Linked DNA regions of Homo sapiens: region 1 is linked to region 2. Evidence: fine-mapped expression QTL. A gene starts in region 2. The other region holds a variant in brackets. All regions are shown on one strand. Distances are between the middles of the regions. Region 1 overlaps ZFYVE1 (zinc finger FYVE-type containing 1). Region 2 holds the start of RBM25 (RNA binding motif protein 25).

Evidence for each region. PIP is the estimated chance that this variant, and not a neighbour inherited with it, causes the effect.
Region 1: its variant is fine-mapped to the expression of RBM25 in whole blood (TOPMed, PIP above 0.99).

Annotation. Positions count from the first base shown.
Region 1 is chr14:72,994,430-72,999,807 of GRCh38, reverse strand. It overlaps ZFYVE1 (zinc finger FYVE-type containing 1), which reads left to right. Exons shown (of 12, transcript NM_021260.4): 3 at 1,493-1,997. Among named protein-coding and RNA genes, the nearest start is that of ZFYVE1, 30 kb to the left of the region's middle. RefSeq lists a silencer at 1,740-1,940. The variant C/T (reference allele first, on the strand shown) is at 3,037.
Region 2 is chr14:73,055,346-73,060,723 of GRCh38, reverse strand. It overlaps RBM25 (RNA binding motif protein 25), which reads right to left and starts at 2,190. Exons shown (of 19, transcript NM_021239.3): 1 at 2,019-2,190. It overlaps RBM25-AS1 (RBM25 antisense RNA 1), which reads left to right and starts at 1,271. Exons shown (of 2, transcript NR_184256.1): 1 at 1,271-1,448; 2 at 1,967-3,894. RefSeq lists enhancers at 2,086-2,625, 1,678-2,877, 1,949-2,913.

The DNA.
Region 1 (5,378 bases), 61 kb after region 2:
GATTACAGACATGAGCTACCATGCCCCGCCTCTTTGTTTATTTTAATGAGGCGGATGACACTGTTTCCCAGGGTGGCTGTAAACTCCTGGGCTCAAGTGATCCTCTTGCCTCAGCCTTGTTGAGTGTCTGAGATTACAAATGGATGCCACCATGCCTGGCTCCTTATCAGATATTTGATCTACAAATGTTTTCTTCCATTCTGTAAGTTGTCTTTTCATTGTCTTTTTTTTTTTTGAGTCAAGGTCTTACTTTGTCATCCAGTCTGGATCACAGTTCACTGTAACCTCCAACTCCTGGGCTTGAGCCATCTTCCCACCTCAGCCTCTGCAGTAGCTGGGACTACAGGCATGCACTCAGCTATGTATTTATTTATTGATTTGAAATGGAGTTTCGTTCTTGTTGCCCAGGCTGGAGTGCAATGGTGCGATCGCTGCTCACTGCAACCTCTGCTTCCCGGGTTCAAGTGATTCTCCTGCCATAGCCTCCTGAGTAGCTGGGATTACAGGCATGTGCCACCATGCCCAGCTAATTTTGTATTTTTGTAGAGATGGGGTTTGTCCATGTTGGTCAGGCTGGTCTTGAACTCCTGACCTCAGGGGATCTGCCTGCCTTGGCCTCACAAAGTGTTGGGATTACAGGTGTGAGCCACCGCACCCGGCCTCATTTTTTATTTTTTGTAGTGACACAGGGTCTTGTTACGTTGCCAGACTGCACTTGAACTCCTAGGCTCAAGCAGTTCTCCTGCCTTGGTCTCTCAAGGTGTTGGGATTATAGCCACTGCTCCTGGCTAGATCAAGTCTAATTTATCTATTTTTTCTTTTTATTTAGTTATTATTTTAAAATTTTTAATATTTTTAAAATTTTTAGCAGAGACAGGATTTCACCATGTTGCCCAGGCTGGTCTTGGACTCCTGAGTCACCTCACTTGGCCCCACCCCCCTTTCTTTTTTTTTTTTGAGGCAGGGTCTCATTCTGTTGCCCATGCTGGAGTGCAGTAGCACTGTCATAGCTCACTGCAGCCTCAAACTTCTGGGCTCAAGGGATCCTCCCTCCTCAGCCTCCTGAAGTGCCACTGTTACATGCGTGAACCACCACACCTGGCCTTATCTGTTTTTTCTTTTGTTACTTGTGCTTGTGTTGTCCTATCTAAGGAACTATAGACTAATCCAAAGTCACAAAGGTTAATTACTTTGTTTTCCTCTAAGAGTTTTACGGTTTTAGCTCCTTTTTTTTGTTTTTTTCTTTTCTTTTCTTTTCTTTTTCTTTTTATAGTTTTAGCTCTTTTGGCCACTAAGTTATTTCCCTGACTAAAGCTTCAGAGGTTCCTTTGAGCTGTTTGCTAAGGGTGGAGGTGGGGAGCTATTATCCTGTGACTTCCTTTCTTTGACAATTCAATCAAGTTCCTTGTCCTTGGGAAGCACTTCTTCTTGTAGGTGTTTCTAGTGCTTTTACAGTTTCTGTATTTCATGGTCTTTTTTTTTTTTTTTGCAGGTAACAAATGAAGAAGACTTTATTAGAAAATTGGACTGCAAACCTGATCAGCATCTGAAAGTGGTTTCCATTTTTGGAAATACTGGTGATGGAAAGTCTCATACTCTCAACCACACTTTCTTTTATGGTCGTGAAGTCTTTAAAACCTCCCCGACCCAGGAGTCCTGCACTGTGGGAGTGTGGGCAGCCTATGACCCAGTTCACAAAGTAGCAGTGATCGATACGGAAGGGCTCCTGGGGGCCACCGTGAATCTAAGCCAGAGAACACGGCTGCTGCTTAAGGTCCTGGCCATCTCAGACCTCGTCATCTATCGAACTCATGCAGACCGGCTGCATAACGACCTCTTCAAATTCCTTGGGGATGCCTCAGAAGCTTATCTGAAGCACTTCACCAAGGAGCTCAAGGCCACCACTGCTCGCTGTGGCCTGGATGTCCCTTTATCCACACTGGGCCCTGCAGTTATCATCTTCCATGAGACCGTGCACACCCAGCTACTGGGCTCTGGTGAGAGATGGGGTACAGTGTCACAGCTCAACCTTTATGGGTACAAGGAGGCAGCTATTTGGTCTGCAATAGCAACTTGTTGGTAGTGGATTGCCCAGAAAGATTTCTGTCCAAAGAAGACATAGAAAGTGTTTCAAGGAGGATGGAGTGATCAAACATGTCAATCTGCTTATAGGTCAACTAGCATAAGGATTGAGAATTGCCAATTGGCTTTGGCAATATATAAGTCCTTAGTGATCTGGATAAGACCTGTTCCCTGAGATGGTGGGGGGTAAAAGCTTGATCAGAGTGAGATCAAGAGAAAATAGGAGGAAGCCAGGTACAGTGGCAAGTGCCTGTAATTCTAGCTACCTGGGAGGCTCATGTGGGAGAATCCCTTGAGCCCAAGAGTTAGAGATCAGCCTGGGCAACATAGTGAGGCTATGTCTCTAAAAAAAAAATAAGATTAGGAGAAGAATTACTTTATTCAATTCTTTGACAGAGTTCTGTAAAGCAAAGAAGAACAATGAGATTGTAGCTGGAGGCTGATGTGGGATTTCAAGGGATTTTTCTTTTTTAAAATTTAAGATGTGACGTATTGCAGATATTTATGTACTGATGAGAATGATTCATTAGAGAGGGAAGAATGTAGATGTAAGAGAGCAGGAACAGTTGGAGTGATGCATGAGTGGAAGGGTCGGCCTTAGGACCACGGACAGTTCATCCATAACAATGGGAAAGAAAGTAGACAATATGGACACGGTCGCAGATAAGAAGATGGATGTGGACATGGGACGTGTGTGTGTAAGTTCTTATTTGTTTTCTTAGAGAAATAGGAAGCAAGATTGTCACCTGAGTGGTAGGAGGATGGGGGAAAGGTGCAATAACAGATTAGATAGGAGGGGAGCAGTAAATTTGGCTCCTGAAACAATTGCAATCTTCACTTGTTCATTCGGTCATCAAAGTTTATTGAGTGCATATGTCATGTGCTGAGCACTGAGGCACAGAGCAGAAAAAACACTTCCTGTCTTTGAAGAGCTCACAGTCTAGTTGGGGCGAC[C/T]GCACGGTGTTCTGTGCATACCTCCGTACTTACAGGTACGGTGCTGTGGGAGTCCAGAGCAAGGACACTACACCTTATGGAATCTAGGAAAGAAGAGGCGACATTTGAGCTCTGAGAGACTTGGCTAGATGGAGGAGGGGAAGAAGATGCTCTAGGAAGAGCAAACTCCTAGTAGCTTCAAGGAACAAATTGCGTTCAGAGAACTGCAGGTAGGGCTGGGTGTGGTGGCTCACACCTGTAATCTCAGCACTTTGGGAGGCCAAGGCAGGAGGATCCCTTGAGCCTGAGAGGTTGAGGCTGCAGTGAGCTGTGATCGTGTTATTGCACTCCAGCCTGGGCAATAGTGAGACCCTGTCTCAAAAAAAGAAGGAAAGAAAAAAGAGACAAGGGAAGTAGTTCTGCAATAACTTCCAAAATTCCATTCTAACTCCCTTCAATGCATTCTCCATGTAGCATCCAATGTGATCTTTTCAAAAGCTTAATTTACACTTCAGATCATGTATACTTCTGCTTGCAGCCTTGTCAGTGGCTTTTGACTACATCAAAATCCAAACTCCTAAATGTAGTGCCATCACTTTAACTCCTACCTTTGTCTCTGACCTCCTTTAGTTACCCCTTTTCATTCTCCCCCTGCCCACTGAATGCAGCCCCTCCCCTGCCACCCCGACTGCCATGTTTGAAGCATGGCTTGTGTGGGAGGGAATGATGGAGAGACTCAGGGATCAGATCATGGGTGGCCTTGACTCAGTTCTCAAGTATGGCAGGAGTCCATGAAGGATCTTAAGCAGAGAGTTAGATGGCCAGATCTATATTTTCAAAAGATTCCCTGGCAGCCTATTGCAGGATGACTGAGGCAGGGGGACCAGTCAGCAGGATATCAAGTCACTCAAGTGAGAAGTGGTTGGGATTCAGCCAGGGCAGTGGCAGTAGGAGGGAAGTGCACAGAGTAGGCCATAAAGGAGGTTGAATCTGAAGGACCTGGCACCAGTTGATTCTGGTGGTACCAATGACACATGCCCTATAGAAGATAATACATGTAAATGTTCCCCAGTGAAGGAGCAGATTAATTAGCAAGTGCCTCGAAGATAAGGAGAGGAGGTGACAAATGCTGACTTTCAGCTGCCTCCTGTGATCAATACTTTTATGCCACTTTGGATCTTTACAGTTTTAGTGAGGGGAAGGTTTAATTGCCAGTTCAGGATTTTGAAGTAACCAGCCCCTGAAAAGTTATTGTATTTTAGGCTGAGCACGATGACTTCTGCCTATAGTCCAGCACTTTGGGACATTGAGGCGGGAGGATCACTAGAGCCCAGGAGTTTGAGACCAGCCTGGGCAAAATAGCAAGACTCTGACTCTACAAAAACATTAAAAAGTTAGCCAGTTGCAGTGGTACATACCTGTGGTCCCAGCTCTTTGGGAGGCCAAGGTGGGCGGATCACTTGAGGTTTGGGGTTTGAGACCAGCCTGGCCAACATGGTGAAACCCTGTCTCTACTAAAAATACAACAATTAGTCAAGTGTATGGTGGTGGGCACCTGTAATCCCAGCTACTCAGGAGGCTGAGGCAGGAGAATCGCTTGAACCCTGGAGGTGGAGGTTGCAGTGAGCCGAGATTGCACCACTGCACTCCATCCAGACTGGGCAACAGAGTGAGACTTCGTCTCAAAAAGTAAGTAATTAAGTAAGTAAGTAAATAAATAAATAAATAAATAAAAAGGAAATTAAAAAGTCCTTTCAACCTTTATCACCGATACATTTATTGAATCCATCTGTGCTATGGCTGCCCAAGTTTCTGGACAAATGATGAGAGTGTGGGCAAGCAAATACCCTTATACATTGGTAGTTTGCCCAGAGCTTCCTCACAAAAGACCAGAATTTTCAAAGTACAGAGAATTGTAAAAGTTCATCAGGAAGGTGATTAGTTAAGTATATCCACAGGATCGAAGACTGTATTGCTGCTTTTGAGTGTATTGTGACAAGGACAGGTACTTACAGTATGTTATTAAGTGAGAAAAGAGCAAGTTGCATATATATGTTGCTAAGTCTGTAGGAAAAATGTCTGAAAGGGCCAATATTGAGCTGTGGTTACTTTCGGGAAGTAGGTGAGAGCAGAGGACATAATTTCTTTCCTTTTATGCTTTGGCATATCTAGATTTTTCCAATGAATGGGTTTTTGGGAAAAAAGACTCCTCCTTGAAGTGTAATGTGCATACAGAACAGTGCGTATCATATCAAGGTATCATGTGATGAGTTTTCACTGCCTGAATGCCCCTGCGTACTCAATGCTAGACCATAGGACACCAGCCCTCCTCATAGAAGCCCTCCTCATGTCCTTTACCAGGA
Region 2 (5,378 bases):
TTAAAAGCCAATACCAATAATTCTGGGTAGTGGAATTTTGTTCTTCTAGTTTCAGCAACTTTCAATTTTCAAAAAAAGGTAGAAAAGCTATTTAAGAAGAATCAAAAATCCCCTTTTGTGAATGGCAGTGATAGTGTTTGAAAAGTCAATCAAGAGATCTCTAAAATACAGACTGTTTTAGCAAGATGTTAAGATTGATAAATGATTCCTTTGCTTCCAAAGCTATAAAATAATGTAAATTTTCACTAAATCATGTGTAAATAAGAAAAGTAAACTGCTAATTTGTCTGTGGACAAAAACATAACTTGAAAATTCCAAATTCCTGTTAGGTCTGAAGTAGTTACCCAATGTTAACATGGACTAGTTTTACTTTAAAAATACATTCAGAAGGCCGGGCACGGTGGCTCACGCCTGTAATCCCAGCGCTTTGGGGCCTAGGCGGGCGGATCACGAGGTCAGGAAATCGAGACCATTCTGGCCAACATAGTGAAACCTCGCCTCTATTAAAACTACAAAAATTAGCCGGGCGTGGTGGCGCGCGCCTGTAGTCCCAGCTACTCAGGAGGCTGAGGCAGGCGAATCGCTTGAACCTGGGAGGCGGAGGTTGCAGTGGCCAAGATCGCGCCACCGCACTCCAGCCTGGGCAACACAGCAAGACTCCGTCTTAAAAAAAACAACAACACAAAACAAAAAAAAAAATTACAGAGTCAGGGTTGGACTCTTACATTTCATTGAAAATCCTTAAATAACAAATTATGTCAATATAGATTTAAATGCTTATGTGTGTTACCTGGATACTGCACGAAGGATTTTACATACGTTTTTCTCAATCCCCAACCCCAATAACGTATAGATACTACTATAAATTCATTTTACAGAGGAACAAAAACCAAAGCTTAAAAGAAAAAAGAAAAAGAAAAACCAAGGCTTTAAGTTAAATGAATTAGAATACTATAAGATTCACTTGAATCATGAGTAACTTATGACCAACTTAATCCCTTTCAAGTCCTCTGAATGTTTTTGGAAATAGCCTTTAAAAAAATTAAAAGCTCCAAAGACTATACAAAAATTATTTATACATTACTGCCCACGGCCTAATACACAGAGTACTTCACACTAATACAGCAGTAGGGTGCAACAGAGGTCCAATCTCTTCCCTTCTCTTGGCTCCACTCTGCCCAGTATCAAAATGGCATTTCCATGGCAATACAAATCCATATTACATAACCTCCGAAAAATCTTCATAGTCCTACGTCTATTCCGGAAAACCGTATTTAAAAGCAGGATTGACGACCAAAGAAAAATGAGAAAGTAACATTTTAATGTGGAGCTTAGTAATCGCCTAGAATGAATGGCGATATACAGTTTACTGCACCCTCCAATGCGCAAAAGAGGCAGGATGGCAAAATTCATGACTATCTTAAGCAAGCCAGGAGACTGCTAAAAAGGTAGGTATTAGCTCAATTCCAAGGGGGTGGGGCCCAGTTCACTTGGTGGCGGGCTCTAGATGGCCAAAGAGGAAGGGAAAGATATCCGTTGGTGGCCAGCACCTCGCTAAAAAGGGTGGGTAGAGGCTAACTTCAAGGCAACGGCTGGGGCGAGAGTGTCCCAGGCCCGAAAACCTACTGTGGGGCTCCGGTAAGTAAGGGGGCTCAGGGAAGGGCTCCCCTGGGGCAGATCGATCGTTTTGTATCTAACGTGGAGCCCAGGGGGGGCAGAGACGATTCACTCCGCGGCGGAACGTGGAAGGGAAAGGGAAAGTGGGCGACAATGCAAGACGGAAAGCTCAAGCCGTAGGTCTGGCCTCCACCAGCTACGGCTGGGCCCACAGCTTTTCCAGGCCTTAGAGAAGAGAAGAAACCAAGCCTCGTGCCGACCCCTCCCCCACCCCCGCCTCCGCGCTCCCCCTTACCTCTACCCCACCCTGGCGCTTTCGCAGCCACCCCGGCTTTTCCTCCTCCACCAGCTGAGGCACCCGGTCTCCCGGTTTCCACACGCGTTCAGAGACACAAACTCACCCGCCGCTGAGGAAACGGTACTGCCTTCGCGACCTTCTGGGATCCAGGTTACGAGTGCGCTCCACTGGTTCGAGATTTCTGCCCGTCGCTCGCCAGGGAGACTGAGTGCCCAAGCGCCTACTCGCACAGGCCGCAAATACAGCCGCGCTGCGCGGCGAGCTGATGGAGGTCTTCCTCTTGCCCGGCGTGCACTGCGGCCGGGGGCGGGGAGCGCGGAACCATAGAGAAGAACGTATATAGATCGTCTCCGCTGTTGGCTCTGACTCACCAAGCCGAGACGAATAACCATAGAGAAGCAGCGTCTAGCGGTTACTAGAAAGGCCCGAACTGTAAATTATGACCCACCATGTTTGATTGGAGCCGACTGAATCTTACGACTACGGGACGCCATCTTGAGGTCAAGGTTCCGGCTGGGCACGGCGCGAGGAGTGTTAGAGGCTTTCTCACTTTTCGTAGTTTTTCGGGGGGTGGAACCTTGCTTTGTGATTCCTTGAGGTTCGAGGAACTGATAACTGGGCGCGATCTGCAACCTTAGTGTTAAACCCCAAGTGCTGTTATAACAACTACTCGAGATCAACAAATAATTGGCAAAGGCTGTGGAGGTTTTTTGAAAAGCAAAAGCTTATGCGTAGTTGTAGGGCCAAAGAGGTGGCTAGAAGATGTTTGGAAAAACGTGAAAAGTCCTGTAATACTAGTTAACACAGCTTTCGTTCTGTAATCTAAACGTGCTAAAAGAACTTAGCTTAAGTTAATGGAAATGAATAAAATTAATCATAAATGATTACGTTATTCCAATTGTGGACCTTATAGGCAATATCTAGTTACACGCCTTTCTCAACTGCTTGCCTCTAGGAAGGCATAAAACGGATTCAGTATAAAGTTATTGCCTCCCTGAGTTCCTGGTGCTGTGTTAAGTGCTGGAAGTATGAAGGCAAATGGAAGTGAGATTTGTTCCTGTCCTGCAAGAACTGTGAGCCAGGTGAAATAGATGACAAACCATGACCAGCCTAATATAAAATTGAAACATACTACACACTTCCTGCCTGCCTCCCCTACTTAATTTTACTCTAAAGCACTCATAACCATCTATCATAACATACATTTTTCTTGCTGATTTTATGGTCCGTCACTACCCCCACTAGAATGTGAATGTAAGCAATGCATGGATTGCCTGTTTTGTGCAAGAACAGGTCCTGGTACATAGCAAGCGCTCAATAAATATTTGTTGAGTGACAGAAATGATTACCGGCCGGGCGCGGTGGCTCACGCCTGTAACCCCAGCACTTTGGGAGGCCGAGGCGGGTGGATCACCTGAGGTTAGGAGTTCGAGGCCACCCTGGCCAACATGGCAAAACCCCGTCTCTACTGAAAATACAAAAATAAACTAGGCGTGGTGGCAGGCGCCTGTAATCCCAGCTACTCGGGAGGCTGAGGCAGGAGAATCGCTTGAACCCTGGAGGCGGAGGTTGCAGTGAGCCGAGATGGCACCACTGCACTCCAGCCTGGGCAACAAAGTGAGACATTGTCTCAAAAAAAAAGAAAAGAAAAGAAAAGAAATGATTAACATATGATGAGTACCAATAGAACACAAAATTTAGTGGGAGCACAAATGAGAAAGTAGCACTAATTACTACCATCTGCAAAATTTACATCCTTCTATACTTCTGCTTGCTAGGTTTCCTTACCATTAACTAAAGTTAATAATACCTTTGGCCGTGCGTGATGACGAGTGCTTGTAGTCCCAGTTACTTGGGAGACGAAATTAACTTATGTATGTTTGTACTTTGTTCAGTAAAGTGCTATTCAAATTTATAGTTTTTATAGTGCTACTCTATAATGCTATTTATTGTTTGTAAATAAAATGAGTTTCTTTTTTTGTTTTGTTTTGTTTTTGTTTTTTGAGGAGGTGTCTCTGTTTCCCAGGCTAGAGTGCAGTGACGTGATCTTGGCTCACTGCAATCTCTGCCTCCCAGTTCAAGCGATTCTTGTGCCTCAGCCTCCCCAGTAGCTGGGATTATAGGCGTGGGTCACCATACCTGGCTAACTTTTGTATTTTTAGTAGAGATGGGGTTTCACCATGTTGGCCAGGTTGATCTCCAACTCCTGACCTCAGGTAATCCGCCCACCTGGACCTCCCAAAGTGCTGGGATCAAAGCTGTGAGCCACCATGGCCGCCCAAGAGTTTGTGCCTATTTACAACAAAAGGCATAAACAGAAATCTCAGATTAATCTGTGTCCCTTTTTATTATTAGAAACATTGTACATGAATTTGTGTTTACTGTGTAATAAAGGGAGCCCTCAGGCAACAATTTGCTAACTTTCCTACCTTAGACAATTTGTTGCTGATGTTCATGCAGCATCCATTCCCCTTGCCTTTAGTAATGAACCCTCCACATTTTTTAAAAGAAACCATCTTGGCCGGGTGCGGTGGCTCACGCCTGTAATCCCAGCACTTTGGGAGGCCGAGGCAGGCAGATCACGAGGTCAAGAGATCAAGACCAGCCTGACCAACATGGTGAAACCCCGCCTCTACTAAAAATACAAAAATTAGCTGGGCTTGGTGATGTGTGCCTGTAGTCCCAGTTACTTGGGAGGCCAAGGCAGGAGAATCGCTTGAACCTGGGAGGCAGAGGTTGCAGTGAGGCGAGATTGCGCCACTGCACTCCAGCCTGGGCAACAGAGCAAGACTCTGTCTAAAAAAAGCCAGGTGCAGTGGCTCACACCTGTAATCCCAGCACTTCAGGAGGCCGAGGCGGGTGGATCACCTGAGGTCAGGAGTTCGAGACCAGCCTGGCCAACATGGCGAAACCCTGTCTCTACTAAAAATAACAAAAATTAGCTGGGCGTGGTGGCAGGCACCTGTAATCCCAGCAGCTCAGGAGGCTGAGGCAGGAAAATCGCTTGAACCCAGCAGGCAGAGGTTGCAGTGAGCCGAGATCGCGCCATTGCACTCCAGCCTGGACAACAAGAGCAAAACTCGGTCTAAAAAAAAAAAAAAGAAAAGAAACCATCCTTCCACTACTCCAGATCCATGTACTTTGGATAGGAAGTCCCAACTCTAACCAGACCCCCTTAGGACACAGGAGTAAACTTACAACCTAATCAAAACCTGATGATTTAGTCACCCCTCCCTTTTTTTTTTTTTTTTTTTTTTGGTACTAGCCACTGTTTAAAGCATTTTGCAAATATCAACTCCTTTAATCCTCATAACAACCCCCTGAAGTAAGAACTATTGTGATACAAATGAAGAAACCAAGGCTTGCAAAAATTAACCTATCAAAGGCTACAAAAATAGTAAGTGAGCCAGTCTGGTTCCTGAGTTCGTGCTCTGGAACATTATACTGCTTCATCCTTTCAGGA